Linked DNA regions of Homo sapiens. The protein of the gene in region 1 purifies or fractionates together with the protein of each later gene. This does not show direct contact. Each region holds a gene or a part of one and is shown on either strand. Other genes may lie near its edges.

Region 1 (3,500 bases):
AAATTAAGTATCGTATCCTATGGATAATGACAAGCTTTTCTGAAGCGGGCTTTTTCTTTTTCTTTTTCTTTTTTTTTAAGAGACAGGGTCTTGCTCTGTCACCCAGGCTGGAGTGCAGAAGTGCTAACAAAACTCACTGTAGCCTCAAATTCCTGGGCTCAAGTGATCTTCCCACCTCAGCCTCCCTAGTAGCTGGGACTACAGGTGTGTACTACGATGCCCAGGTAAGTTTTAATTTTTTGTTTTTTGTAGGAATGGGGTCTTGCTATCTTGCCCAGGCAGGTCTCAAACTCCTGGCCTCAAGTGATCCTCCTGCCTTGGTCTCCTGAAGTGCTGGGATTATAGGTATGAGCCATAGCACCTAGACAGAAACAGGTTTCTTTTTGTATAAAACCAGTGATTTTAATAATCCTAAATTTGTTAATATGTCTTTACAATTAGACCGGGAATTCCAGGAAAATATTCCATAAATATTTTCTCATACTTTAAGTTTTATGAAGTGCTTATTTTGTGTCATTTCATTAAGTTCCAAAGTTACACAAGGTTGATACAATCCTTTTTTTCACAACCAAAGGGGTAATAGTGTGGTAGAAGAAACAAATAAGGCATCAAATATGACAGCCATTCTGCCCCTTTTCCATGCTAAGTGAAGCCTAACTTTGTTCAGGGCACAGTGTGTCCTACCCTAGGGGATGAGACATAATTAGTTTAAGGCAGTCATAGCAATCTCCCATAAAAGGAGAGGGTTCCTTCTTCTCCTCTTACTTTTTTTTTTTTGTTTAATTGTTCGGCAAATGGAGTACTTCTCTTATGCCTGGAACTCTCACAGCCATCTTGTAACTATGAAGCAACAAGTCCCAATCCTTGACACTGAGAATAGCAGAGGGAAAGGATGAAAAGGGTCTGAGCTCTTGATGACATTGATGAGCTGCTCAACAAGCCCTGAGACTACCTCCTCTAGACTTATAAGTACCATAGCTCATTGATTTTAAAATTGATGGATACTTGCTCATTGGTGTATATTTGTTCACACATCTCTGAAGTCAGGATGTATCTTAACGATCCATGGCATTCTTACATTTAGTCGAATGTATTTTATTCTTAATAATGGTATCCCTAAGTTCTACAACTTATTGGAATATAGCATATAATAAAATTTCACTGGTTTTAGTCTCTTATTTGGTTTTGCTGTTACTTAAAAAGCAGAAATAATGGCTTAAGGACCACACTATACAATGGAGTATTATGAAAAAGAACAAGGTAGACATGTATGTTAATTTAAGTGAAAAGCAAAAACATGTCGCAGAGATATACTATCTAGCATAGTTTCATTTAACACATAATAATAAAGTTTATATACATGAACATGGGCTCCCCTACATTTACATCCTTAACAGCACAGAACAATCAGGAAGCATAATATATTCCAAATTGTAGGGGTGGTAGTGGTGGAGTGGTTACATGTTTTTCTGTGTAAAGAAAATATTTGGAAAACAAATCAACTCCTTGTCTAGACCAAAAGACAAAGGCAATGACTTAGTCGGGAAAGTAAAATAACCACTTATAAAACAATAAGGGAAAAAAAAAATCCAGTGCAAAGAAGAGAACTACAAAAGTATCCCAGTGGTGGCACAGCAACGTCAAAAGATCAAATCACAGCTCCAACAAAAACGGTACATTACCTGAATAAGCAGGCTCGATCCATGTGAACAGGTCTCTTATTTTGAGGATAACTAAAAGATAATATTTTGCATTTTATGAATTATGTGTTAAACTCAAGTGGGTGAACTTAAGGTTTAAACAGTATTTTCTCTTTATAGGACAGAATGTCCAATGTGTTTAAACTATAATAAATCCTAAACAAGCAATCAGTTAAAACAGATGAAATACAATAAAGACATGACTTAGAACCACTGCAGGGAACCATCATGCAACAGGGTCAGTGTTTTTCTTATTTTCCAATATAAGTCAACATTGCACAGATCCAAGATTTCCTCTTTTGCACTGTCCTTTCTGGGTTACTCCCAGAGTAAATCTGCATAGCAAGTTTATGTTATATAAAAATCCATAGCTCTGGCCTTCTATAGGAAAGACTTGCTTTCGCTTGACAGCATAGTCTCAGGTATAACAGGATGGATGAGTGGATCATTTAGCAACAGTTACTGCCTTTTTTTGGTGTGTAATAGACAAACATATCAAGAAAGTACCTGGACCGAGTAATATCCCAAATTAACCAATCATTTCCTGCAACGGCTCCAACTTTGAAGGTGTTTTTTAAGCACCAGTGTGCTGACATTAATGGCACTTGTTCTGATTCAAGAGATAAAATAGCCTGTTGGGCCAAAAGATCATAAAACCGGATTGTTCCATTCTTCTCTGCAACCATTAGCTGTAAGACAGAAAAATAAAAAGAAACTCAATCACTTATCTCACTAACTATACCTGAAGTGTAAGCAGAGATTCACTGTTGTACGGTAAAATGTAAACATTTGCAATATACAGGTTCAGCATTCCTCATCTGAAAATCTGCAATGCTCCAAAAACTAAAACTTTTTGAGTGCTAACATGATACCACAAGTGAAAAATTCCACATATAAGCACTTAACACAAACTTTGTTTCATGCACAAAATTATTAAAAAAAGTTATATAAAATTATCATCAGGTCATGTGTATAAGGTATACATGAAACATAAATGAATTTCATGTTTAGACTTGGGTCCCATTCCCAAGGTATCTCATGTATATGCAAATATTACAAAATGCAAAAAATTCCAAAATCTGAAACCCTTCTAGTTCCAAGAATGTCAGATAAGGATCCTCAACCTATATTACAAATGGAAGATCAAATGTAAAGGAAGAGGCTATGTAAAAATCTCTAGAGAATATAAAAAACCTTAGAGAAAACTGGCAAGATAAACAATTCAAGATTTGGCCGGGTGTGGTGGCTCACGCTTGTAATCCCAGCACTTTGGGAGGCTGAGGCGGGCAGATCACTTGAGGTCAGGAGTTCGAGATCAGCCTGGCCAACATGGTGAAACCCCGTCTCTACTAAAAAAAAAAAAAAAATTAGCCGGTTGTGGTGGCATGCGCGTAATCCTAGCTACTCGGGAGGCTGAGGCAGAACTGCTTGAATCCGAGAGGCAGAGGTTGCAGTGAGCCAAGATTGTGCCACGGCACTCTAGCCGGGGCAACAAGAGCGAAATTCCTTCTTTAAAAAAAAAAAAAAGATTTTGAGATTTGGTAGAATTTTAAGTGATGATGTGCCGTCACTAAGAAGAAGAGATCAATTTAACAATTCCTTCTGGGAAAAGTTACTTTTAAGTTATGTTAGTTATATTGTCTAGAAAGAATAGCTAAGTATGTATCTCTCAAGAGAGACAGACATTTATGTGTTACACATACTTATGCAACTGAAGTTTGTTTCTAGAATGGAAGGCAGGGCAGCATAGTTAAAGAGCACAGACACGCCGCTTCCTTCACTTATAAGCTGAGTGACTGC
Region 2 (3,500 bases), on another chromosome or scaffold:
TTGTCCTCACAATCTGTTCCCAATTTCAGGCTTTATAAGTTTAGTTGACTTTCCATTAGCCCAGTCAACTAGCGATCTCCTCCCTGCCACCTCCCAATTGGGTCAGTCAGCAGAGGTGAATGGAAATACCTAACACATAGAAAATACATCCATATACACATATACGACATGCTGACTTCGAAACTGATGATCCAAAGTAATGTGCAAGCTCATTTACATCCAACCCTGTATGCACCCCAGCCCCTGTCAATTGGTTTTATATCATTACCCAGGCATGGTGGTTGGCACTTGTGGTCCCAGCTACTTGAGAGGCTGAGGTGGTAGGACCGCACAGGAGGCGGAGGTTGCAGTGAGCAAGATCAGGCCACTGCACAACAGCCTGGGGAACAGAGTCGGACTATCTTTTCTCTTTTATATTTTTATTTATTAATTTGTTTTGAGATGGAGGGTCTCACTTTGTTGCCCAGGCTAATCTCAAACTCCTGGGCTCAAGAGATTCCTGACTTGGCCTCCCAAAGTGCTGGCTGGAATTACAGGCATGAGCCACCGCACCCAGCCGAGACCCTGTCTCAAAAAAAAAAAAAAAAAAACGGTTTTGTATTCCTTTTTGTGTCTTCTCTTCCTTAGATCCACAAAGAAATCAAATTTCCTTTTACCCTGGAAAAGTCTTCAAAGCATTATTTTTCTTACATGGTACCTCGGTTTTAGACTCTCCCATAGAGCAGGGAAGAAAAGATCCAAAAGAGTCTCCATAGTAACAGACTCCAAAAGCCAGCCTACTGCTGGAGGCTCAGTGGGTGTCCTCAGACCCACCCGGCAGCACCAGGGACAGTAGGACACATGGTGGGAGGTGGGGGCCCGGCCTGTCTTACCAAGTTCCAGAAGCTGTCATGTTTGCTTGGATTCTCACTGCCCAGAACATCTGCCGACAAACTGTCCACCTCGCACACATGGAGCCGGACCCAGTCAAGGAGATGGAGGAGGAGAGGGCCAGCTGGGAGGAGAGACTCTCATCACACACAAAAGCCTCAGCTTCATCTGCAGCAAGTTCCTTTATCCAAGGAACAGAGAACTTTAAGGCAGACAAGCTGACTACATAGGTTTATCCCTTTTAAGCAGTCACACACATGGTCCTGAATGACAGACTGTGCTAGGAAAAAGCAAATGCACTTTCACCAAATATTACTTCTGTGCCAGGCAGCTCCATCTTTAACTGACCCCAGAAAGGGGTGAACATGGAATGCAGACCTCACTACCCCACACTCCAGATTCTTCACAAATACTTAATAGCTACATAAGTAATGGCCGTTTAGGAACCAACAATGACTAGATAGCAAGCAGCCAGGTATGCAATGATGATAAAAACATAGGGCCAGGGGGCTGGTGGTGCACACCTGGAATCCCAGCACTTTCGGAGGCTAAGGCAGGTGGATCATCTAAGCTCAGGAGTTCAAGACCAGCCTGGACAACATGGTGAAACCCTGTCTCTACTAAAAATACAAAAATTAGCCGGGCGTGGTGGCGCATGCCTGTAATTCCAGCTACTCAGGTGGCTAAGGCAGAATTGCTTGAACCCAGGAGGCAGAGGTTGCAGTGAGCCAAGATCGCACAACTGCACTCCAGCCTGGGTGACGGAGTGAGACTCTGTCTCAAAAAACAAAACAAAACAAAACATATGGCCGGGCATGGTAGTTCATGTCTGTAATCCCAGCACTTTGGGAGGCTGAGGCAGGCAGATCGCTTGAGCCCAGGAGTTTGACACTAGGCTGGGCAACATAGGGAGACCCCATCTCTACAAAAAAAAATAAAAAATTAGCCGAGCCAGGAATGGTGGCTCACGCCTATAATCCCAGCATTTTGCGAGGCCAAGATGGGCAGACTGCTTGAGCCCAAGAGTTCAAGAACAGCCCGGGCAACATAGCGAAATTTCCTCTCCACAAAAAATACAAAAATTAGCCGGGCGTGGTGGTGCAGGCCTGTGGTCCCAGCTACTTGGGAGGCTGGGCAGGAGGATTGCTTGAGCCCAGGAAGTCGAGGCTTCTGAGCTGTGATCACGCCACTGTACTCCAGCATGGGTGACAGAGCAAGACCCTGTCTCCCCTCCCCCAGCATATACACACAAAAAATTAGCCTAGCATGGTGGCACGTGCCTGTAGTCCCAGCTACTCAGGAGGCTGAGACAGGAGGATCGCTTGAGCCTGGGAGGTCCAGACTGCAATAGCTGTGATTGTACCACCACACTCCAGCCTAAGTGACAGAGTGAGAACTTGTCTCAATCAATCAATAAAAATAAAATGAAATAAAATGGCAGAGTACAGCCAGCACTCCGTATCCATGATGTAGAACCTGCAGATACAAAGAGCCAACTGTAACCTCCTCAAAAATCCACTGGAGAAGGGAGGCCTCTGAACAACCAACTCTAATTTCAAGTTCCTCACTTCTTTAGTGAGAGTATGAATAAAATGCTAGGGCTACACAGAGGTTACTACTCATTTATGGAAAATAGCAAACATAAATCCTTAAAAGAAATGCAAAAAAGCTGCAGCAGATCCACAGAGAGCTCATACAGGCCATGACACTATACTGACCACAGTTTAATTCAAGATCAACAGAAGGCTGGGCACGGTGGCTCACACCTGGAATCCCTGCACTTTGGGAGACCGAGGCAGGCAGATTACCTGAGGTTGGGAGTTCGAGACCAGCCTGACCAACATGGAGAAACCTCATCTCCACTAAAAATACAAAATTAGCCAGGCGTGGCAGCGCATGTCTGTAATCCCAGCTACTCAGGAGGTTGAGGCAGGAGAATCGCTTGAACCCAGGAGGTGGAGGTTGCGGTGAGCTGAGATCACGCCATTGCACTCCAGCCTGGGCAACAAGAGTGAAACTCTGTCTCAAAAAAAAAAAAAGATCAACAGAAAAATTCCCATTGGCAGAGTTCATACCCATTGGCAGAGTTAACACACAGAGTTGCCCTGTCCCAATGATTCATGACAGAATTCCCAATGTGACTTTGCCTCTCACCACCTAATCCTACCCCACATTCATAAAACTTTCTTAAGCTTGGCCAGTCCATGATGTTAACACTGACACCCCCTTTCACACACTAGTTTAATATTTCTCAGTACTTGTCAGGGTTTAGGTTTCTTGGAGGCACTCTGCATGATTCTTTTTGCAGCACCTGACAAAACGGTCAGGTTTCTTTGGGTGTTTTCTAACGACTTCCCGTGGTTATAATGATGGAAAGAACATTCTCAGGAATAAAACACTCATCACCATGCACAGGAAAGATGAGGAAAGAGCAGAAGATGGAAGGGGACACCTATGAGATTATGGTGAGATATTCCATGCCTACCTGGGGCCACTTCAATAAAAAGAATCTCACACAGGTTCCAGATGAGCTCCATTGCTGACAAAATGGAGACCTAAGGAAGAAATGGGGACAGGTTTCACCTGAAATGATTCCTGAGCTTTGCTCTCAGAGCCAAGGGATAAAGCAG

The links. Proteins that work in one complex are often made in the same cells at the same time.
Region 2: the proteins of NUP37 (region 1) and NUP85 purify together in Homo sapiens (affinity purification with western blotting; 4 studies listed by BioGRID and IntAct, with this or other methods). This does not show direct contact.

Annotation. Positions count from the first base shown.
Region 1 is NC_000012.12:102,075,115-102,078,614, forward strand, and holds part of NUP37 (nucleoporin Nup37), read right to left. Parts: intron 2,390-3,500; coding exon 2,208-2,389; intron 1,734-2,207; coding exon 1,683-1,733; intron 1-1,682. UniProt on the Homo sapiens protein: Component of the Nup107-160 subcomplex of the nuclear pore complex (NPC). The Nup107-160 subcomplex is required for the assembly of a functional NPC.
Region 2 is NC_000017.11:75,215,679-75,219,178, reverse strand, and holds part of NUP85 (nuclear pore complex protein Nup85), read right to left. Parts: intron 3,426-3,500; coding exon 3,356-3,425; intron 995-3,355; coding exon 873-994; intron 1-872. UniProt on the Homo sapiens protein: Essential component of the nuclear pore complex (NPC) that seems to be required for NPC assembly and maintenance. As part of the NPC Nup107-160 subcomplex plays a role in RNA export and in tethering NUP96/Nup98 and NUP153 to the nucleus.